Linked DNA regions of Homo sapiens: all the other regions are reported to be linked to region 6. The links are microRNA targets in miRTarBase. Many come from high-throughput screens and were not tested one by one. Region 6 holds a microRNA gene; each other region holds the end of a gene's coding sequence.

Region 1 (3,347 bases), not on the chromosome of region 6:
CCGGAAACCAGCTCTTCCTTTATCCACCTGCACGGCCCCTGCCACAGTGAGGGAAAGATCTGGTCCCTCTGACAGTAAGGAAATTGTATAGAAATTATCCTGAGGAAAAAAAAAACCACTGTGACGCTACCTAAAAGAAAGAGTATTTCAATTTGCTTACACAGATTTAGTCAGTACACTCCAGACTGTAAGAAATGTATGAAGAGACTGCTTACGGAACTCAAAGACTAAACAGTGAATACTACTGTGGCCCAGACACGGATCGAAAACACTTCTCCCAGTGGCTTCTGGTGCTATGTCTGCTCTCCCGAGAGCGTCCAGCAAGGTCTTCCATGCAGACAGGGTGAGGAGCCACAGAGCTCAAGATTGTTGAAGCTGATTTAGTGAGCTCTGTAAAGCAATACTCAAACAGCTCCGTACGAAAAGGTGTCATTTACATTATTATTTATATATAGTATCTCGAAGTAAGGAAAAAAGCACCATTTTACTGAAAATAAAAAGGCTCACGCAGGCTTTGGTCCTCCTGAAATGACACCAGCCTGAGTGAGAAGCAGTTGGCCCTTGGGGAGCGGGGAGATGATGGAACGCTGTCACCGGCAAGAAGGGAGGCCAAGTGGCCCGGCAAGCCACAAGAATGGGGCAATAAGGGGAGCAGGTGGAGGGGCCTCGGAGAGCAGCCAGGCTAGTCTGGGGATGGAGCCACCTGCTCTGAGAGATCAAAAGTAGGTGTGCGGCACTGTCAGGACAAGTCTCTAGGACTGGGGCATTGGCAAACAAAAGGGGCAATGTCTGACCCGAGATGATGTTCTACTTAATGCATCTCATTTCCCCCAAAACCTGTCACCTGCAGACAGAGGCTTGGACAAGTAGCTCAGATGTACTCTTTTCCCCAGGAACTGCAGGCCGACAAGGACAGAAAAGCTGCAATGACTGCTCCTTTCTCAAGGGATGAAAAAACAGGCTGTTTCTTGGATGCTGCACTTCACAAATGTACTAATTGCCCCCAAAAAAGCAAAGAGTAGATTTTCCTGCCTAGATGCATCACTTGGCATTGACTACACCATGGAAAGCAAGAGTCTGTCTATGTGGGCTGGATTCCTGAACTACAGCTTAGAAGGGAAGGGCGTAGAATATCATCATTAACTGGCTCACAAGGAATAGTCATCTTGGGCGAACACATGCTAATACGTTTCACAGAATGAGGGGTGACAGCCTAGAATCCAAAATGTGATGTTTGGAACATTTCTCGCCAAACCTTACTATGAAAGCCTGCAACCAGTGAGAGGAGAACTGCAAAGACGGCAGCAGAGAAACAGCAAACAGCACAAAAGAGATAATTTACCAAGAGACTTTCCCTCCTTTCAGAGGCAACCAAGCCAGAAGGAGATGACAGAAGTTCACGTGTACAGAGAACAGAAGGGCTAAAACCAGAAGAAGGTGAGCTAATCATGAAAGCAATTTATCCCATTTTTGTTGTTCAATAACACTGGCCAACCTGCTAGGGTCAGATGTCTTCTTCAGAAAGGCAGCATCTCTGAACCTGGGATAAAGGACACTTGAACTGAATGCATGAGCAGAAGGACCCAATGGAGAAGCATAATTGAAATCATCCTTGGACTGCTTAAGAATTTCTTGAAAACTTCCAAAGAAAGAAGGTTATCTGGATCTGCAGCTATATGGCTGTATAACTATCTTCTACCTGGCTCCTCCTGGAAGAGGTCTTTGTCTGCTTGGGAGCTGGGGCTGTTGAGCGGCACAGCCCAGGCACAACCATGCCAGGCTGGGCCTCTAGGCCAAGCTCAGTGAGGGGTGCAGACAATCATCCAACCAGCAATGGAACTCCTTGGAGATGGGGGCCCAAAGGGCAAGACATTTAAACAGGAGTCACTGGGAGATACTCTGCTGCTCAACGAACACCACAGCAAGTGTGAGAGCTCCTTGCCCAAGACTGAGCAGCTCTTCCTCTCCCACCGTGCGTTCACAGGCAGCAGCAGCACGGCGGGAGGGAGCCCAGGAAAGGAAGCGTTGATGAGGTACCAAAAGAAGAACTGACATCTTTGGGTTCTTAAAACAAAAACTCAAATTGAGGAAGCGAGAGAATGAAAAAGGGAAAGAATTAAATCTGAATCAATGGACAGAAATATGTGGCTTACTAACCCACCCCCATTTTGCATACAATTTTATACAAAAAAGGAAAAAAAAAACACCCCAACTCATTGCAATGCAGTCCAAATGTTTGCAACCAAAGATGTATGAAAATATTTCAATTGAAACTGCTTTTTTTTTTTTTAAAAAAAACAAAGCTTTTGATCATTCCCTTGTCAACATAATTGGCAGATCTACTCTCAAACACACTTAAGAGTATTCCACACAACATGTTCGGAATTCAGATTTATTGATTTCCATCGTATTGACTTTAAAAATGGTATGAAGCTGACTGCAAGAAAGGGAACTGGTAATTTTAAGTTAAAATTAAGCTAATGGTGAAAGTACATCACCTCTGGCTTCAGTCACCACATCACCTCAGATTGAATATAGATTTTTTATGAACAAAGTTCCAGAACTCTGAAATCCAGGGATGCTGCAGGCCTCTCCCGGCAATGTCCTTCACTTTGGGTCAGTCTCCTGGGCCAGAGGTGAAAGTGCTTTCAAAAATACTGCCATTTCCCCAGCACAGTGTCTTTGATTGCATCCACATATTGAGTTGGAACCCAGTACACCCAGTAGTAAGAGGCTTCCGTGGGGCCCAACTGAAACGCCTGGAAGGGAAAAAGGAAAACCAAGCGGTACTTCAGAGGTCGGGAGACCAAGCAGGCAGGACAAACATGGGTGAGGGTTGGGATGTGAGTTAATTAAAAAGGGAAGAAAAACCAAACAAAACTTTGCACGTGGGGAGCATTCTCCCAACCAAAAACAAAAACAGGCAGGCTGAGGGTTAAGCTGAGCCAACCCTAAAGCAGCAGTTCTCAAACCTGAGTGGTCATCAGAGCCATCCGGGGGGCTTGCTGGAACATGGATCAGCAGGCTCCAACCCTGTGAAGTTTCTAATTTGGGGAGGTCTGGGGTGGGGCCTGAGAAACTAGCAAGCTCCCAGGTGATGCAACACTACTGATCCAGGGACCACAGTTGGAGAAACGCTGCCCTAGAAAACCTGTCACACATGCTCAAGAAAACAGGTATGAATGTTCATTGCAGCACTGTCTGAAACCACAAAAACCTGGGGCAACCTACATATCCATCAGTAAGGGAATGCAGAATTCAAAGTGACAAGGCTTAGTCACACCAATACTGGAGCTCTTTTTAAAGAGGTATCAACTGGGTCCATATGGATCTACAGTTAATACTGA
Region 2 (3,285 bases), not on the chromosome of region 6:
GTAGCCACCTTCGTCAGTGAGATCAGCTAGATCTGATGGATAACTTACTGCAGCTTCTCCATCAGCACTTGCTGCTTCACTTTGCACTTTTATGTTACAGAGACGGCTTCTTTCTTTCAACCTCACAAAACAACCTCTGTTAGCTTCTGACTTTTCTTCTGCAACTTTCTCACCTCTCTCTGCCTTCAAAGGATTGAAGAGAGTGAGGGCCTTTCTCCGGACTAGGCTTTGGCTTAAAGGAATGTTGTGGCTGATTTGATCTTCTTTCCAGACTCAAACTTTCTCCGTATCAGCAATAATGCTATTCTGCTTTCATATCATTTGTGTGTCCACTAGAGCAGCACTTTTAATTTAATTTATCATTTTTATTTTTTATTGTTTTGAGACAGAATTTCGCTCTGTCACCCAGGTTGGAGTGCAGTGGTGCGATCTTGACTCATGGTAACCTCCGCCTCCCCACTTCAAGCGATTCTCCTGCCTCAGCGTCCTAAGTAGTTCGGAGTACAGGCATGCACCACCACGCCCAGCTAATTTTTTGTATTTTTAGTAGAGATGGGGTCTTGCCATGTTGGCCAGGCTGGTCTCGAACTCTTTTTAAAACATTTTTTTTGAGACAGAGTTTCGCTTTTGTTACCCAGGCTGAAGTGCAGTGGTGTGATCTCGGCTCACTGCAACCTCTGCCTTCCGGTTTCAAGGATTCTCCTATCTCAGCCTCCCGAGTAGCTGGGATTACAGGCGCCCACTGCCATGCCTGGCTAGTTTTTGTATTTGTAGTAGAGACGGGGTTTCACCATGCTGGCCAGGCTGGTCTCGAACTCCTGACCTTGTGATCTGCCCGCCTCAGCCTCCCAAAGTGCTGGGATTACAGTTGTGAGCCACCGTGCCCAACCTGGAGCAGCACTTTTAATTTCCTTAAAGAACTCCCCCTTCACAACTTGGCTACCTGTTTGGTGCAGGAGACCTGACTTTTGGCCTCTCTCAGCTTTCAACATGCCTTCCTCACTAAGCATAATCATTTTGACCTTTTGATTGAAAGTGAGAGATGTGTGATTCTTTCTCCCTTTTTCTGTTTTCTTGTTTTGAGACAGGGTCTCACTGTCGCCCAGGTGGGAGTGCAGTGGCAGGATCTCAGGTCACTGCAGCCTCTGCCTTCACCTCCCAGGCTCAAGGGCTCCTTCCACCTCAGGCTTCCTAGTAGCTGGGACTACAGGTGCGTGCCACATGCCCAGCTAATTTTTATATTTTTTGTAGCGATAAGGTTTCATTGTGTTGCCCAGGCTGATCTCCAACTCCTGAGCTCAAGGGGTCCACCAGCCTTGGCCTCCCAAAGTGCTGGGATAACAGGCGTGAGTCACCAGGCCTGGCCAATGACTCTTTCTCTCACTGGAACACTTAAGAGGCCATTGTAGGGTTACTAACAGGCCTAATTTCAATATTATTTTGTGTCTCAGGGCATGGAGAGACTCAAGAAGAGGGAGAGAGACAGGGAATGGAGTGAGCAGTGTGAGCAGTGAGAACACACTCGACATTTATTAAGTTCACCATCTTTTTTTTTTTTTTGACAATGTCTCACTGTGTCACCCAGGCTGGAGTGCAATGGCACGATCTTGGCTCACTGGAACCTCCGCCTCCTGGGTTCAAGCAATTCTCCTGCCTCAGTCTCCCAAGTAGCTGGGATTACAGGCGCCTGCCACCACACCCGGCTGTTTTTTGTATTTTTAGTAGAGACGGGGTTTCCCCATGTTGTCCAAGCTGGTCCTGAACTCCTGACCTCAGGTGATCCACCTGCCTCGGCCTGCCAAAGTGCTGGGATTACAAGCGCGAGCCACCGTGCCCGGCTAAGTTCACCATCCTATATGGGTGCAATTTGTGGTGCCCCAACAATGACAATAGTAACATCAAAGATCACCGATCACACATCACCATAACAGATATAATGAAAAAGTTTGAGATATCGAGAGGATTTACCAAAATGTGACCCAGAGACGCTAAGTGAGCACATGCTGTTGGGAAAATGGCACCGACAGATTTGCTTGATGCAGTGTTGCCAGAAACCTTCAATTTGTCCTTTTCTTTTTCTTTTGAGACACAGTCTCACTCTGTTGCCCAGGCTGGAGTGCAGTGGCGAGATCTTGGCTCACTGCATGCTCCACCTCCCGGGTTCAAGCAATTCTCCTGCTTCAGCCTCCCAAGTAGCTGGGATTACAGGCGCCTGCCTCCATGCCCAGCTGATTTTTTTATTTTTAGTAGAGACGGGGTTTTGCCATGTTGGCCAGGCTGGTCTCAAACTCCTGACCTTTAGTGATCCGCCCACCTTAGCCTCCCAAAGTGTTGGGATTACAGGCATGAGCCACCATGCCTGGCCAAACCTTCAATTTGTAAAAACTGCAATAACCGTGAAGCACCATGAGGTGTATTGGGAGATGAAGGTCTGCAGCTGGTGATGGACACATGGTACACCTTTCCTAACAAGACCTTACCAAAGCCACACAAGTACGAAAAGAGAGTAAACCTAGGCCCCCGACCCCAGGTCAGGGTCCCTTCATCCTCCCCTGGGCACCTCCCCATCTGCAGACCCATCGCCCTCAGATTACACACCTGGGGCTAGTACTCTAAGGCCAAAAAACCCAAAATCTGAGCCTGCCAATACTGCAGTGAAGTATAGTAACTGATGCACAAAGCACTGTGGAGAACTTTTTATTGTTTAAAAATCATAATCGAAGCTTCAAAAAACATACAAGCCAAGACATCCCAGTTCTAGTCCCCCACTCCCTAAAGGAGTACACAGAACTATCCTTCCCCTCCTGCTCCCACACTGCTGGCCAGGACCCTGCCCGGGGAGGTTGCCTGCCCACCCTCCTGCCTGCTGTACAGTAAGTCACCGGCTGGGGAGGAGCCCTGGGGGAGGTCAGGGTGGCTGGCTCCCAGCACCCCCACCCCCTGCACGAATGCAGCATATGAGCTGTGTGTGGGAAAATGGGGACAGTGCCCTGGGCAGGGGACCCCCAAGGGGGAAAGAGCCTGTCCCCATTCCCCCTACCCCTCCCCAGCCCCCCAGCTCAAGGGAAGCTGTCATCATCATCTTCTGCCATCTCCTTGGCAAACTCCAAGTCCTGCTGTTCTCGCTCACGCCGTTCCTGGGGAGAGAGGCAAGTGAGGCCAAAGCTTCAGAGCAGCTCAGCCCTTCCAGACACTCGCCCGACTCCCCTTCTGTGTGGAAGTTTGACCTTTCGGTCTCACCCAGAAAGCAGAGAGCTTACCTCTGCAGACTCCAAGTCCTTGTTG
Region 3 (3,000 bases), not on the chromosome of region 6:
TGGAGTTCAGTGGCGTGACCATAGCTCACTGCAGCCTCCAACTCCACTCCTGGGTTCAAGCAATCCTCTCACCTGAGCTTCCCATGTAGCTGAGACTCCAGGTGTGCGCCACCCCTCCTGGCATCTCTGGACTTCTGATACCCTTAGGTTTGGTTTCTTGGGCCTCTCTGCTGCCCCAGCACGGCCAGTACTTGCAGGCCTTATAAGCTGTTCTCTTTTCTCCTATCAGACATCACCCTACAGTGGCTTATTCAACACTCGAAGTCACGGAGAAGCTGAGACTCCAGCCCTTCTCCCTCAGACCAGGGACCGTCATCATCTAAACCTGAAGCCGAGCTCCCCGCCCACCCCTGTCGTCCCCCTAAGCCCACCCCTCCTCACCCAGTGTGAGGAGGGCCCTCTGGGGACCCCAGAGTCCTGTTCTGCTGAGGTTTGAACTCCTGTTTTTATTGTAAAATAAATTGCCCCCCATTCTGGTCCCCTAACTTCTCACCCTTCCCCGCTGCCTTTGTCCCATCACCCAGCCCTGCCTCCCTCCCAGCAGCCCTGGGCCACAGCCCCCGCCCCTGGCTTTTCCCCGGCCCGCTCTTGTACCTCCCTTTTCAACACTCTCTGTTATTGTCCTGTGTGTACAGTATATATATGTATATATATTTTAATTTTTTAATTTAAGCAAAGACTAAAATCAACCATTTGATGCTGCAGGGGCCTTTCAGGATCTGGGAGGGGGCAGTCTGGAGAGAAGGAGGGAGACGCAGGTGGACTTGGGGCAAGTTCAGATCAGAAGAGGTGCAGGCTGGCACCTGCGGCAGGTACCAGCCTGGGCACTGGTGGCCGCCTCCCTGTCCCGTGTGTTTCCACCGCCCAATCTGGCTTGTCCTGGCAGTGCTTGAATGCCACAGGCTGGCAGGGGCCTCTGGGGGCCCCTCCCCTCGACCCCCAGCCTGGGTAGAGCCACCAGGTACGACGACCAGGTACCAGAAACCACCAGGCACACGGGGCAGAAAGCCAGCGTCCATGCCCCAGCAGCCCCCTCCTGCCTGTTCCTGGCTCCCAGCTCCCGCCCCTCCCCAGGGCCCCCACCTCCACGGCCCACTTCATTTTCTGTTCTCATTTTGCAGAGTTGCACAAGGAGAGAACTCAGCATGGGGGGTTGGTTCTTTGGGTTCTGTTTGTTTATTTGTTTAATTTAATGATTTGTAAAGTGATGTTCCTCTTCCTTTTTTACACTTTTCAGCTCATATTTAACCTCTGTTTGGAAAATGATTCTTGTAACTGTACATTTTTTTGCTTCCTAATAACAATGACAACAAAAAAAATAAATGACCAGTTTTGTGTTGGGGGGGGTGTATGGTGCTGGTTACTTTTCCGCAGTTGGCATGGGTTGCCCTACAGGCCCACAGGGCCACCAGCACACCCCCGCACGCTGGGCACCAACAGAGCCACGGAGCGCGAGCACATGCCCGCCCGGGGAGCACAATGGCGCTGCACAAAACGGCCTCCCACACGTGCGTCCAGGCTCTTGCGCCACCTCCTTCTCATTCTCTTTTCAGACTTTCATGTAGTCCCAGCTTTGAGCCAGCAGCTGCCACTTGGGGCTGCAGAGCTCTGTTGAGGGAACTGCCCAGGGCTGGGTAGAGGCAGCAAGGGGACAGGGCTGGGTGCTGTTGTGTGCGAACTGAGCTGCACTCTCCTTAGGCCCAGTTCAGGCCTCAGCCCCTCTTTCCCAGGCCCTGGATCTCACCAGCAGCCAAGGTTGAGCCAGAACCAGAACCCTGTCCCTCCGGCCCCCAGTTCCTACCCCAGAACCAGTTAACTGTGCTTCAGGGGTAGGGCTGGGCCCACAGAGCCTGGGGGAGTGTCACCGCCTTTGCTGCCTCTCAGTTAGTGTCAATGCTATGGGTTTCCTGGTAGGAGCCCTGCCCTCGCTCCTCTGCTGGATTCTAGTCCCCCACCCGACCTCACCGTCAGAGCTGGTCCTCCCTCGGCACTGCTCACAGCTGCTGCCTCAGAGCCTGGTGACCCTGCCTGCTCAAATCCGAGGCCATCTTGACCCAGTTTCACAGTAAGCCCCACCTCCTCCCGCTCCACCTCCCTCGGCCTCTCCTTCACCCTGGAAAATGGAGCAGGCCCTTGCAGAACACCCCAGCCCTTCTCACCCCTCCCACTGCAGGAAAAAGGAGCCAAACTGTCCCTTAGTCCTGGGAGTGGGGACCTTGACTCCCCGTCCTGGGCCCTCCAGCCCCTCACCTTCATTGGTGCCCAGGGCTTCCTCCTGGAGGCAGTCATCAGACCTGTCAGAGCAGTTCCCTGCCTGGAGAGGCAGTTCCCCACTGCCAGAGAGTTGGAGGAAAGAATGTGGATGGAATTTGGCATCTGAAGCTAAGTGATTCTAGGGTACCTCCCAACTCCTAAGCAAAATGGGACATGTCCTCCTGGCTAAGGAGGTTGAATGGGAGCCAGGGCTCTATCCCCTGCCCTCTCCTGACTGCAAGCATGGCTAGGTTTTCCTGGGCCTGGGATCCCGGGAGAGGACCAGCAATCTCACTCATCTGGGGCTGTTTCCAGGCCAAGGTGCCTTTCTCAGATCCTGTGATCCTCACTGAGGATTGAGGTTTGAGATAAGAGAGCTGGTTACCAGGAAGCAAGCAAGCATCCTCCTTCCACAGTGCCGGCGTGCAGCAGGTGCTAATATGACTTAAAGAATTTGTTCAGGGGCCAGGTGCTCATGCCTGTAATCCCAGTACTTTGGGAGCCCGAGGTAGGAGAATGACTTGAGTCTGGGAGTTTGAGACCAGCCTGGGCAAAATAGTGAGACCCTATCTCTACAAATAATCAAAAATTAGACAGGCGTGGTAGTGCGCACCTGTAGTCCCAGCTACTCAGGAAGCTGAGGCAGGAGAATCGCTTGAGCCCAGGAAGTGGAGGCTGCAATGAGCTGTGATCACACCACAGCACTCAGCTTGAGTGACTGAGTGGGATCTTGTCTCAAAAAAAAAA
Region 4 (3,000 bases), not on the chromosome of region 6:
AGAATGCTGCAGCCTGCCTCCCTCAGGGCTCTCCATTGCTCTCTCTAAGCCCTCCAACCAGTTCAAAGTTAGAAACAAATGCATCCTACACATCGGAGGTTGGTGGGCTGGGCTGAGCACTGAAAGGGGGCAGAGCATTGTGCTTGGTTGGCCGAGTTCTGGGAACCTGGGCAGCAGAGGTGGGAAAAGTTGGTGAAGAACGATCTTTGTCTTTCAAATGTGCCAGGATTTTAAAAGCAATCTAGTAACACTCATTGGCATGTGCCTGTGTTCTTGTCTGTCTCCAGACTCTGTAGCTACATCCAGAGTCCAGGACTTGTCAGACATGGTGGAGATACTGATCTGAAGGAGGTGGTGCTTCAGGACTCTGAGCCATTCTCTCCCCTCCTCTGCCCTGTGCCACTCTCAGCCATTTCAGCAGCCCCGTCAACCGCTGCTCCGTCCCTTTCCCCAGCCAGACACTCATTCCCATTGACCATCTGGTCCCAGGAGCTCAGGAGGAGGACCCCAGGGGAGAGGAGAGCTGTGAGAGCACCGGCACCCCCAGAAGACTCTGCTTCTTAGCCCACATTCCTCCGGGCCTTATGGAGAATGAGGATTCAGCCTTGACTTCTTGCCCAAGGCCTGCTACTGGGGTAGCAACTGACAGCTCAGAAAGGAGCTGAGCTCCCTCTGCCCTGCCAGTTGTCAGTCAGGCAGGGAGGGAGTGGCTGTGTTGGTTTGGGGAACTAATTTCCACGGACGGCTGCCCGTGGACACCAGGTGGACTGGTTCACTAATCAAGTCAGCCATATTGTTCTCTGGCTAAGTTTGGTTCCAGCCAACGTCATCTGCTCTTCAGTTCCTCACTGCCTTCTTGGGATACTAAGACTTGAATTTTTTGGGGACTATTAAGGGTGTTAGTCTTGGAGAAGACACAGCCTCACCTTCTCACTTGCTGTGGGTGAGGGGCCATTTAAGTGGACTGGGAGACAGTGCGCAGTTTGTATATAATTCCCTTTCTTGTGGAACAGAAGACTGAGGCCTGCAGGTTCCGATGTGTCTCCATGGGCTGTGCTCCCCTCTTCCTACTGTCAGTTTCTGAAACTTCTGACTGGCCTCCCAGTTATGCCTCCTCCTCAAGTTCCTGGCCCGTGGATGTTAAAGCTGCTCGATTCCCAGGATCTCGGCTGCCTTTTCCTCTATCTTGAGCCCTATAAATGCCCACGGGACCCCCACCACCAGCCTCTTGAAGTGGCTCCACAGCTCCTGTCCCTGGAACATCCTGTCAGTTTGGTCATAAACCCTGAGCCAGATGAAATGAGCCACCGTGAACAGACATCTGCCATGCCCCCAGGTGGGCTTCGGTGGCCCTACCCGGTACCAGTTCTTTCTGAGAAACTGGAGATGTCTTGTTAGCATAAGTGTCTTCATTCCCACCTGGAGGGTTTGGGAGAGGAGCAAAGCAGTTGAAAACTAGTTAATGAGCTACAAGAGTCAAATAGTCCTCTGAATGGAGCCCCCATCACAAAACAGTGCCCAGGAGGCTGGCTCCTCAAGCTACCCATGCCCAGCGCCCTAAAGCAGCACCAGATGCTTTGGAATTGGGGTGAAACACCCACATGGCAGCCTGCTAGCAGCAGTGACTTTGACTTCTGGTCTTAAAGAGTCCCTCACTTCAGCCCCAGGAGCTATTGGTGGGTTTTAGCAGTTTTGTCTTTACCGTTTTTAGTTCTCCTTGATTCTTTGTTTTCTTCCTTTATCGTTTTTAGGTTTGGTATGTGTTGTTTTATTTCCATGGTTCCTCAAGTTTCCTTTTTAAACATTTGCATTTGCTGGACAATTGCAATTTTTTTTAAAAAATTCCCCTACCCCTGTTTAAAGCTGAAAAATACATTTGGTTCATGTGCATTGTTTACAAAGCAAAAAGAAAAAAGAGGAAAAAAAGGCAAAAAATATTGTGAAAGAAAAAAAACAACTTAATATATTTTGGATTAATATTTGGTATTTCTTTTAAAGTATTTTTTGTGCTGTGAACATTTTCTGCCAAAGACCATGATGTGTGTCTGTATGTTTAAGTTATCGTAAATATTTAAAATGTAAACATGGCTGTTTTGTTATGCCACCCTGTACCAGGATTGCTGCCGCATTCCACTGGGTATAACAGTATTTTAATTAAAAAAAAATAATTAAAAGTGATGTCTTTGCACAGGTGAGACTTTGCACTGAGGGAAGGGAAAGGGTGAGGATTTTGGGGGGCCACCCAAGTCATAGTCCAATCTCTTCAAGGACCCAAGATAGAATTTAGGAATTTTGTGAAGCTGCATTAAGGATAGAGTTGGAATGAGGATGTGGCTGGCATTTTTCCCCTTTCATAGATAACATTTCTTGAAGGCTGGGAGGGGAAGGAGGGCCTGGCAGATGGCAGCCTCCCGAGGTAGGGCTGTGTTCTAATCAGCTTTGTTCGGCCACACGCTGTGGTTATCCACAGTGGGAGTGGGTGTCCAAAGATGGCTTTATCCTTCCCCCACTCCTTTTCCCACTCCCACCTAGCACATAAAGTTTTGTCCGAAACCATCCAGAAGGCCAGGCACCATGCAGAGGACATTCAAGAATGTGCATGTTCTTAGCCACCGCCTCCCTCCTTTGCTGTGACATCACCACTCTTTCCTGATGCTCAGGAAAGCATATTGCTCCAATTCAAAATTAAAGAAAGCCATTCTCAGTCTTGCTTGTTCTTGTATCAGAAACAAAATACCTGTCTTGTGCTTCTATAAGTGTGTTAGGACCCTGAGGTTCCCAGTCAGCATGTGGCCAGCAGTTAGCTGGCCATGAGGCAGCAGCAGGCTACCAGACAGCCTACGTGACATGTGACAGGAACAGTTTCCCACCATGGCCGTGAGTGAAGTGTCTTCGGGGCCAATGTGGGAACTCGGGAGCCATGTTGATGAGTAACTAAGTTGAGATCCTAGAGAAGGTGTCTTCCCGAGCTGGCCTACCAGCCCACAAGTATGAAGACAA
Region 5 (3,000 bases), not on the chromosome of region 6:
CAGGTTTATTTCAGTTTTATATTTTATTCCAGGCAAGTGCTTATTACATGGATAGTATTCATGTCTCGGTAACTAAAGTCTTGGAGCATGAACAGCCACTAGAATACAGTTCAATAGTAAAAATACAGTATGTACAAAATTAGGGTTTTTGTAGTTTTTTTTTTTTTCCACACAGCAGATGTATCCAAACACATAAAAATCTCTACAGTCTGGGGTCGCTACAGTTTATATTTCAGGAAACAGAGACACAGTGGCCGAGTCCTCACTGTAAACAAGGGCCACCTCTGGGGGTTGGGGGTGGGACCCTGGGATGGGGGGAGAAGCAGCTGTTTCTGGAGAGAGAAGGGGTCATGGTGGCCCCCCAGTTACCCTCCAGGCATTCCCTGCCTTCTTTGGCCCCCCAAGGAACCAACCTCCCCCTCTCCCCGAGGTAAGGACTCCCAGCCAGTGAGCCACTCTGAACATCAAAAGGTAAAACACGCATGAGAGGTAAGATGTGTGCGTGTGCGTGCGTGTGTGTGTGTGTGTGTGTGTGTGTGTGTCCCAGGCTGGAAGGGCTAGGGAGGGAGGGCCAGGCGGTCCCACAGGGTGAGGACAGATGTGGTCCCGACAGCACTCTGGGGGAGACGCCCAAGGAAGGGCTGGGTGGTGACTGCCCACTTGGGCACACAGCATCACAGCGTTCACAAACGACAAGAAAAACAGCAACACCCATCGTCACCAATCTGGACATAGTCATTCGGCACTAGATTTGCAGGCCCCCGATGCTGGGGGACAGGGACGGGGAGGGGCAGCGGGTGGATGATGAGGTATCTGTGCAGGCCCGGGGGCCACTGGCCTCAGGATGCAGGGAGAGGTGGGCAGGCTGAGGGGAGGGGCGAGCTCCACGAGGCTGCTCTAACTGCCCCGTGGGTCAGGCCTGCCATCGCTGTCACAATGGGAATAGCAAAGCTGGCTCTCCCAGAGCCACGGGGTCTGGCGGAGGTGGCTGTGCTGGGGTGGGTACAGGGCTCAGCCTCTGAGGATGGTGACCTGGTTTGTAACTGTCCCTTTACCCACACCAGGAGAGAGAAATAAGGAACAGTCCCCTGGGAGGTGTCCAGGACCAGGAGGGAACAGGAAGGGAATTTTTAGGCATCTAAGGATTCTTTATTTCCAGAGAAAATCTATTCAAGACCTTTGCTGACCTCCTCTGTGCCTGCAGGGCACTCCAGGAAATCCTCAGCTCTGTCCCCTCCCCCCGGCCCCCTCGCCGGCCCAGGCCCCTGCCCCAGCCCATCAGTGTGAGCTTCACATCCAGGGACACCGGCTTCCTCCCGCTACACTGAAAGGCCACTGGTGAGTGTGTGTCCAGGTGGGGAGCCGAGCGTGTCTGACACAAAGCCACTTGTAATAAACACCCACATACAAGGAAAGGCCAAAGCAGGCTGCCCAGAGGCAGAGAAAGCCGCATCCTAACACAGAGCCCCTGACTCCTCCCCCTTCCACGCTCAGCCCTGTCCTTGACCCAACCAAGGACCTCTTCTCAGAGAAAGGTGCTGCTGCTCTGCAGCTCCCCGGGCAGGGCCCACTCAAAAGCGTCCCCGGGAGAAGCAGGGTGTTGAGGGGATGGGAGGACAGAGGCAAAGGGGCTGGAGCAGAAGCAGCAGCCCTAGCTCTGGCCCTCTGTTCTGTATAGGTCCCAGGGTTGGTCTGGGGACAGGCTTAGGGCTTGGCTAAGCCGCTGGGTTTTTACCTTCCTGATGTCTCAACGATGTGGCTTCTATGCTCCTGGAAACAAGACCAGATGCTGGTCCATGTCTCCCAAACTGCAGGAGGCACCCAAACCCACAGGCCGCCAGGCCCACCTGTCCCTTGGAGCAGTGCCCAGCACTCAGCAGAGGTCAGAGATCAGGGGCTGAACGCAGGACAGCGCCCCTCTTTGCTGCCTTCTGGAAGCCAAGAGCCAAGCCCAGGGCTGGGGACTGGGGACTGGGGACAGGGGCCCAGTGGCTCTCCTCCCATCCAGACCCAGGCTGCAGGGGACGGGGAAGGGGAAGGACAGCCAAGTCCCTCCTTCCCCACCTCAGCCTGCCCTCCTGAGGTCCAGAGCCCAGTGGCAGGGATTGGGGTGAGGGCACAGGAAGCTTGGCAGTGGCTGGGTTTGGTTTATTGTTGGTAGAGAATCATTTTAAGTAGTATCTACGGTAACGAATCACAGTGACTGCAACCGGGTCAGAGAGCCCCAGGCTGAGGCCCCACCTGTCCGGGTGGGACTCCAGACCAGCCACTTCCTATGATCTGTCACCTGTGCTCAGAGCAAGGCCCCTTATCACCCCAATCCGCAGCTTTCTGGGCCAAGTGGCTTCAGTTCTGCTTTCCCCATTTCCCCTCCAAAGGCCTGGGAAGAGAACATGAGGCTCCGGAGGAAAGCCGGGGGCCTGGGCCACCTCACCAGACAGCAATAGCAGCAGCAGCACACGAAGGCGGGGCAGGGCGGGGGAGAAGTCAGGGAGCGTGACGTCCACATCGCACTGATTTCCGAGGGTAGGGAGGGGAAGCAGGAGCGGCACTGGAGCTGGCACTGGGCCGGACAGGTGGCACATTCCATCAGAGTCTCGCATTTTCTCAGAGTCATCTTACCAAGTCCTAGTGCAGCAGGGTGGCCCTTCCCTCCCTTGGCTCAGAGTCTTTGCACCCCCTTCCCCTAGGAGGCCTGGGGGTGGGTGGGGGGGCTGGCCTGGGCCTGGCTGGAATGTGTGGAGCTGGTGGGTGAGAGAGTGGGGGACAGGTCCCCCTCCCTGTCCCCACTGGGGGCCTCTGAGTGGCCTCGTCCTCAAGCCAGCTTGAGTGTGCTGACTGGGAAGGAGGGCATGGTGACCATGGTCACAGGGTTGAGCACGGTCTGGCCCACCAGCTGGGGGTGGTGCACCACCTGAGCCCCCACGGCCGGCTTTGCCATGACAGTAGCCGGGGGCCCCAGGCCGGCCGTGCCGTTGACTTGCTGGTGCGAGAGGGTGT
Region 6 (3,347 bases):
AATATATTTTATATATATATACACACACACACACATATTTGTATTATATATTTATATATTACATATAAAATATATATACATATGTAGGCACTGAGGATACAGCAGTGGACAGTAATAACAGCAAAGATTTAAGATTCCTGACCTCAAGAAGCTTGCTTAATATCCATTGACAAGTAAACTGGAAAATACAGCAGGATAAGGTGAGGTCAGGATGCTTTGGGAATGTTCAGGAGGGGCATCTAATTCAGTTTTTGTAAGGTGAGAAAAGGCTTCCTAGAATACAATGACCACCTATTCTGAGCCTGAAGAGGTGAGGAGGAGACAATCTGTAAACAGGCAGTGATCCAGGTAGAAGGTAATACACTTATAGCCCTGGAGGCAGAGAGAACAGGAAACTTCAGAGAAACTGGCAAATAGTATGCGAGAGAAGTGACGAGAGATTAGGCTGGTAAGATATGCAGGAAGAGACCAAAAATGACCTTTGTATGTCATAGAGAAAGCTACAGTGTCAGATTATATCATCTTACATACTTCTTTAAATGTTTTAGTGGTTAAAACAGATTGCACTTCAAAAGGGAAAAAAAGCACACCCTCAAAGATTTCTGCTATAATCACGGGAAAAACTATAGAACTAGTAAACCCAGCAATTAAATACCTCTTAGATGCCTAGAAAACAGACTCTAGCCACAGAAAAACAAAATGATGCTATATCATCATTTGTGTTCATCAGTATTCAAATTCCAACCACACTTTAAGAACTACAGATTCGACTTCAGCTATATAACTTTCTCTGAGTAACTTGACCTACATAATTTTGTTCATATTCCAGATTCCTATAGTAGGTCTAATTTATTTAAAAATCACAAATTGCATATAAAATGTTATATTACTGCTAATTACTTTTTTAAATTGTGATTTCCTCTATTTACTAGACTATGAGCTTCTTCACAATACGGACAGGACACTTAAATGTTTTATATTCCCATCCCCATTCCTCAGGTTTCATGGCCAATGCACCATACCCAATGAATTTTAGATTAAAATGCTTTAGAAAAAAACATGATAACTTCACGAATCCTTATTTCCTCATAAGGTATACATCAAATTATCTTTTACATTTCTTTTGCTTCTAACATTTGATTTGTAGCATGCTTCTGATATTTAAAAAGATAGCCTTTTTTTCTTTTTTAAAAAACTATATCTATTCACATAACACAGACATATATGTTAGCTAGATGAGAATGCCAAGGGAGAGGGTAGAAGAGAAAAGCAGGAGGAGAGAGAAGGAAAAAAGGAGAGGACAAAAGAGAGGGAGGTAGGGAAAAGAAACACAGAACACTTTACCAATAAATCACAGGGAAGTTTTAAAAACATAGTAATATTACGTATGGAAGCATTACCCCTAACTCATCACAAAACCAAAGTTCTATCTTTCAATAATCAAACATCATGTAAATGCCAAAAGAAAACTCTGAGAGCAAATAATGAGCCATGAATATTTCAAATCTACTGAGTTTCAGCTGTGATCAAAAATTTAGTGCTATAACTTAGAAAGACTCCTTGGCAGAGTAGTTACAAGGAACCTCTCCTAATTCAAATATGAGTTTGATTCCAAGCTCTGACAGTTACTAGTGATCTTGACCAAGTTACTTAATCTCTCTGACTCTCAGGAAAATTTTAAATGTATAGATATATATTTTTTAAGTCATGGGGCTGGAAGTGTTAATGCTTCACATACATCTTTATGTAACACTTTACAACATCTCTAGGTAAAAATAAAATGTTAGCTATACAACCATTTTGAATCAAGACACATTTATTCCATATTCTGTCATGTCTACCTGAATCAAGATACGGTTTTTTTCCATATTCTGTCATTTCTACCAGAATCAGGACACATTTATTCCATATTCTGTCATTTCTACCAGATCATCCAACAAACATTAATGTATAAGGCACTGTACTAAGCACTGGGTATGAAAACAACAAAAAGAGAAGGTTCTGTCCACAAAGAGTTTAAAGTGGAGAAGAGTGGAAAAGACTCAGCAGCTAGGATAGAGGGTCCTGGACAGCGTGAGATGACAGATGGCTTCTCAGCTGTCAGGTTCATAGCTGACTGATTGAAGAAAGAGATGGCAGCCCTGGAGTGTTCCTGCACCATCTTCTCGTGGTCCATGGCAGTGGCGGAAGAGGAGCGGGCCCAGAGCGAGAGTGCGGGCCCCAGGAGGGGCCAGAGCAGAGGCCCACCCGGGGGCCGCTCCCCAGCACCGACGCCAGCATCATCGTCCTGTTCCTTTGTCCGATGGGCAGCTGCCAGAGCTGAGGACTGAAGTATACGGAGGCTTCCCTTTCTCTTTTTAAATTCTAGATATTAAGCATAGCCTTGGTCAAACACAGTTAATGGTGATGTTTATTTTATTAATAGAATAAGTCCTGAGGCTTTCACAAAATAATTTTGTTCTGCCAAAAATTAAGAATAAAAGTCTTTACGTAAAAGATGTGTGTGGTGGTGGTGGTGGAAGAGAGCTAGTTTTTATCTGTAAGACCAAGTTATCAGATTAACATGAACATTAAAGAAAAATTCCTCTTCTTAGTGCTATGTTGAACCATAATGATAACAATAATCAGAAACAAAAATAATTCAATTGTTGACTCTACAAGTATTTACTAGCTGCCCATGTGAATGACACTGTGTGCGACACTATGATAAAAATAGTAATAAAATAAGACAGAACTGCTTCAAGAAGTTCCTAATCTGATTGAAGAACAGTACAACAAGCAGGCAATGACAATCCCATCCAATTAGTACCTACAGCAGAATGGGAATGTAGAGGAGGGACCCCTAGTCAGTGTTTGTCATCCCTTTTCACTTCACACACACACAAAGAAGGATAATATTTGCATGGCCAAAGACCTGAGGCAACCTGGTTGCTAGGCCAGTTGAGGTCCTGCCCTATGGGGTGAAGGCATGAGTAGGAGAGTTTGAGAAGGGCCCAGTTAGACAAGGTCAACCACCCACACATCCCTCTGGCTTCTTAAAGTCTAGTAGCTACTGTATTCGACAGTTTAACACAGAACATTTCCATCACCACAGAAACTTCTATTGAATAAAACTATAATCTATAATTCCATTCACTAATTTAAAAATTCTGATATAATACAAAGATTTAGCAATAAATGTAAAAACGCATAATGATGGAATATAATTTAGTAACAAAAGGAATGAACAGCTGATAAATGCTACAACATGGATGAACCTTAATCATGCTAAATCTGAAAAAATCTAGTCACAAAAGACCAAACATTACATGCTTCTATTTATATGAAACATAGACAAAAGGCAAAAC
Region 7 (3,347 bases), not on the chromosome of region 6:
ACATATCTACATAGGGCTCTTGTCAAAAATGTTTAAGATTCATTCCTCATGAATCTACTCATGAGGAAATGGCAAATACAAATTATGGAATCTTATCTAAGACAACTGGAGTAAATTATTCAACGAAATCAATGTCATGAAAGACAAAGGAATGCAGGAGGTCTGTTGTAAAAGAAGATACTTAAGAGAAACATAACACATGAACTTCTATTTGATCCTGGATCAAAAATGAAATTAAAAAGCTGTTAAGATTTTGGATATTGAGAAGTGAATACAGGCTGAGTATCCCTTATCCAAAATGTTTGGGACCAGACATGTTCCAGATTTCAGACTTTTTCAGATTTTGGCATCTTTGCATTATACTTATAGGTTAAGCATCCCAAATCCAAGAAATCCGAAATCTAAGCTCTTCCAATAAGCATTTCCTTTGAGCACCATGTTGGTACTCAAAAAGTTTCAAGTTTTGGAGCATTACAGATTTCAGGTTTTCATACTTGGGATGCTCAACTTGTATAAACTATATAAGATTAAGAAATTGTTAAATTTTGGCCAGGTCCAGTGGTTCACACCTGTAATCCCAGCACTTTGGGAGGCCGAGGCAGGTGGATCATCTGAGGTCAGGAGTTTGACCAGGCTGGCCAACATGGCGAAACCCCGTCTCTACTAAAAATACAAAAAAATTAGCCAGGCATGGTGGCAGGCACCTGTAATCCCAGCTACTCAGGAGGCTGAGGCAGGAAAATCACTTGAACCTAGGAGGCAGAGGTTACAGTGAGCTGAGATCACACCATTGCACTCCAGCCTGGGCTACAAGAACAAAACTCCGTCTCAAAAAAAAAAAAGAAAAGAAAGAAATTGTTAATTTTTTGTTGTTGTTTTTGAGACAGAGTCTTGCACTGTCGCCCAGGCTGGAGTGCAGTGGCGCAATCTCAGCTCACTGCAAGCTCCGCCTCCTGGGTTCACACTATTCTCCTGCCTCAGCCTCCCGAGTAGCTGGGACTACAGGCGCCCGCTACCACACCAGGCTGATTTTTGGTACTTTCAGTAGAGACGGGGTTTCACCGTGTTAGCCGGGATGGTCTCGATCTCCTGACTTCGTGATCTGCCCGCCTCGTCCTCCCAAAGTGCTGGGATTACAGGCGTGAGCCACCGCGCCTGGCCAGAAATTGTTAATTTTCTTAGTGTGATAAAGATATTGTGGTTACAGAGAACATCCTTATTAGGAGATGCATACATGGTTTAAGAGTTAAGAGTTGCAATGTCTGTGACTAGCTTTCAAATGGTTTAACAAAATCAATCTATATTGAGAAAGATAATTGTGACAAAATGTTAATTCCTGGTGAATTTTGGTAAAGGTTCTATGCATGGTCACCAAACATTTCTTTCAGCTTTTCTATGGGTTTGAAATTTTTACAAGTTAAAAGTAAAATAAATAATAGAGATCCTTTGACCATAATTTAAACTGAATTAGCATTGTCAGGATTAGAGCTCAAGAACCTTTATTTTTCACAAGGTCATCCAGATGATTCTAACACACATCTAGAGAATCGCTGGTCTTTGGTTTCTGCTACCTCCTGTAGTCAGAGAAAAGTGAGAGGAAGAAATGTTGTAATTCTCTCAGTAGAATTAGCTCAGCTGGTGGCCAAGAGTCTTTCCCTGATGGTTCCACAAGCCAATTATCTCAGACACGGTCCGAATGGCCTCGGAGTCTTAAGACTGGATTTCCTATGGAGGAATCAAAGTACTAATCCTCCTTTGGGGGCCTTGGCTGCTGTAAGAAACCAATACTTGACCCTCCCAGGAATAGAAGCTTCAGGGCACTGAAAGAGCTAAAAGGACTGGAGTGGAGGCAAGCCAAGGTGCTGTCTGAATGGTAAGAGGAAACCTACCAGGTGAAGGATCTAGTGTTTTGCCAAGAAATTCAATTTAATACCAAACAGGGGATTTACCTGGGCAGAACAGGCAATTTGTTAATATTTAGTGACTGTTACACACCTGAGTTGGATGTCATTACTAACAACCCCTGCCATAGGCTTATGCACTGCACCCCCTGCCCCCAAAAGCAGACAATTGGTTTAATGTCTATTCTAAGAAACCTGAGGAAAATGAAGCCAGACTGATTATGGGACAATTTAAATAAATACAAGAAACTGAAGAGCAGAAAAAGGTCTCCATACAGCTACTGTGAATTACTTTTATTGAAAAAAAATGTTCACTAAAAAGGCTGAATACATCCCTCTACATGAATACACAGCTCAGAAGAGGGGAAATGGAGGTGGGGAGGCATCCAAGTCATAAAGGGTAGAAAATGAATGCAAGCTTCTTAGAACTCTTCCCAGGAACACAGGCAATGCTTGCAGTTTCCTGGGTACCCAATGGGCAGGGAAGATCAGGAAGAGATCCATGGGACATAAGGAAGTTAGGTTACTGCGCATAGCTCCCAGGAGATTGTCCCCTCCATTTCTCCCACTCATTCTTTTGGCTGTGGGAGTGTTCCCTCTAAGCTGATCCACTACCAGCAGCTGGAACACTCCCCTAAAAAGCTAGCTTGGCTTCCTGGGCAGCCAGTTCTTCAGGAGCAAGGCTGTTAAGTTCTTGAAGCTGTCACTGCTGCAGGCCCCCCCTTAGCGCACAGAGGACAATCCTCACCAACACGCCACCAACCACTCCAATGGCAATTCCTATTCCCAAGGCTGACGCCACCTTCTTTTTCCACTTTGGGTGGTGAGGCTTGGAGTAGCTGTCCAGATTAACTTCCAATCCCTCATCTATTAACTTCTGATCCTCAGTAAGTGACTGATGGAAATTCAGATTCACCAAGTTAGGAGGAAGGACCCTCAACCCAAAATAGAGCCTCTTGACGAGTCTCAAGTTTTTTACCAGCTGCACATCACAGCGATATGTCCCAGAGTCATACTCCTGAGCATATTTAAACTTCACAAAGTGGGAGTTGGCTTGAAAGGGTTTGAAGACCTCATCGTCAGTGGAGATGACACCTCGAGCAAGTCTCCAGGTGAACCGGAAAGCTTCCTGTCCAAACTCCAAGATGTCTGAACTCAGACAGCTAAGCTCAAATTCCTTGCCAATGAGAATGGTGAAATGGAGCATCCCACAGATCCAGTTGGTCAGACATTCTAAGCGCCGAGTCTGACATTTCCTTCTCACTCCATCAGGGCCCACCTCACAGACGGTCTCCTCCTTATAGCCAAGGCCACAGGTGACAGTACAGGTTGTGGCATTGATGATAACTTTCCCCACAGCTTCTTGCAGCTTCTCAGGGATGGCCAGTGTTTTAGGTGTAGTCACCACCAAAGGCAGGTAGAAGGCCAACCCCAGGCTCCCAAGGA

The links. Region 6 holds the annotated microRNA hsa-miR-1343-5p (UGGGGAGCGGCCCCCGGGUGGG, at 2,243-2,264, opposite strand). A microRNA usually pairs through its seed, bases 2 to 8, with sites in the 3' UTR of a target mRNA and lowers its output. Matches are read on the target gene's strand: a 7mer-m8 pairs with bases 2 to 8, a 7mer-A1 pairs with bases 2 to 7 and ends in A, and an 8mer does both.
Region 1: the mRNA of UBFD1 is a reported target of hsa-miR-1343-5p. Seed matches in the 3' UTR shown: 7mer-m8 at 647-653 and 8mer at 563-570.
Region 2: the mRNA of PSMD3 is a reported target of hsa-miR-1343-5p. Seed matches in the 3' UTR shown: 7mer-A1 at 2,887-2,893.
Region 3: the mRNA of ARL8A is a reported target of hsa-miR-1343-5p. Seed matches in the 3' UTR shown: 7mer-m8 at 336-342 and 7mer-A1 at 1,067-1,073.
Region 4: the mRNA of AMOTL2 is a reported target of hsa-miR-1343-5p. Seed matches in the 3' UTR shown: 7mer-m8 at 1,056-1,062.
Region 5: miRTarBase lists MNT as a target of hsa-miR-1343-5p. Seed matches in the 3' UTR shown: 8mer at 1,356-1,363.
Region 7: miRTarBase lists TMEM81 as a target of hsa-miR-1343-5p. Seed matches in the 3' UTR shown: 7mer-A1 at 2,277-2,283.

What each region holds. Positions count from the first base shown.
Region 1 is chr16:23,569,892-23,573,238 of GRCh38, reverse strand. It overlaps UBFD1 (ubiquitin family domain containing 1), which reads right to left. Exons shown (of 7, transcript NM_019116.3): 7 at 1-2,759. The coding sequence ends at 2,649. Among named protein-coding and RNA genes, the nearest start is that of UBFD1, 14 kb to the right of the region's middle.
Region 2 is chr17:39,997,356-40,000,640 of GRCh38, reverse strand. It overlaps PSMD3 (proteasome 26S subunit, non-ATPase 3), which reads right to left. Exons shown (of 12, transcript NM_002809.4): 11 at 3,261-3,285; 12 at 2,682-3,137. The coding sequence ends at 3,060. Among named protein-coding and RNA genes, the nearest start is that of PSMD3-AS1, 16 kb to the left of the region's middle.
Region 3 is chr1:202,131,746-202,134,745 of GRCh38, reverse strand. It overlaps ARL8A (ARF like GTPase 8A), which reads left to right. Exons shown (of 7, transcript NM_138795.4): 7 at 230-1,342. The coding sequence ends at 279. GPR37L1 (G protein-coupled receptor 37 like 1) reads right to left here. Exons shown (of 2, transcript NM_004767.5): 2 at 1,154-3,000. Among named protein-coding and RNA genes, the nearest start is that of GPR37L1, 10 kb to the right of the region's middle.
Region 4 is chr3:134,355,051-134,358,050 of GRCh38, reverse strand. It overlaps AMOTL2 (angiomotin like 2), which reads left to right. Exons shown (of 10, transcript NM_016201.4): 10 at 288-2,704. The coding sequence ends at 346. Among named protein-coding and RNA genes, the nearest start is that of MIR6827, 11 kb to the left of the region's middle.
Region 5 is chr17:2,384,086-2,387,085 of GRCh38, forward strand. MNT (MAX network transcriptional repressor) reads right to left here. Exons shown (of 6, transcript NM_020310.3): 6 at 1-3,000. The coding sequence ends at 2,816. Among named protein-coding and RNA genes, the nearest start is that of MNT, 15 kb to the right of the region's middle. RefSeq lists an enhancer at 1,898-2,722.
Region 6 is chr11:34,940,768-34,944,114 of GRCh38, reverse strand. MIR1343 (microRNA 1343) reads right to left here and starts at 2,278; the gene lies at 2,195-2,278. All of the region lies in intron 2 of PDHX (pyruvate dehydrogenase complex component X), which reads right to left.
Region 7 is chr1:205,080,949-205,084,295 of GRCh38, forward strand. It overlaps TMEM81 (transmembrane protein 81), which reads right to left. Exons shown (of 1, transcript NM_203376.2): 1 at 2,181-3,347. The coding sequence ends at 2,605. Among named protein-coding and RNA genes, the nearest start is that of TMEM81, 1.8 kb to the right of the region's middle.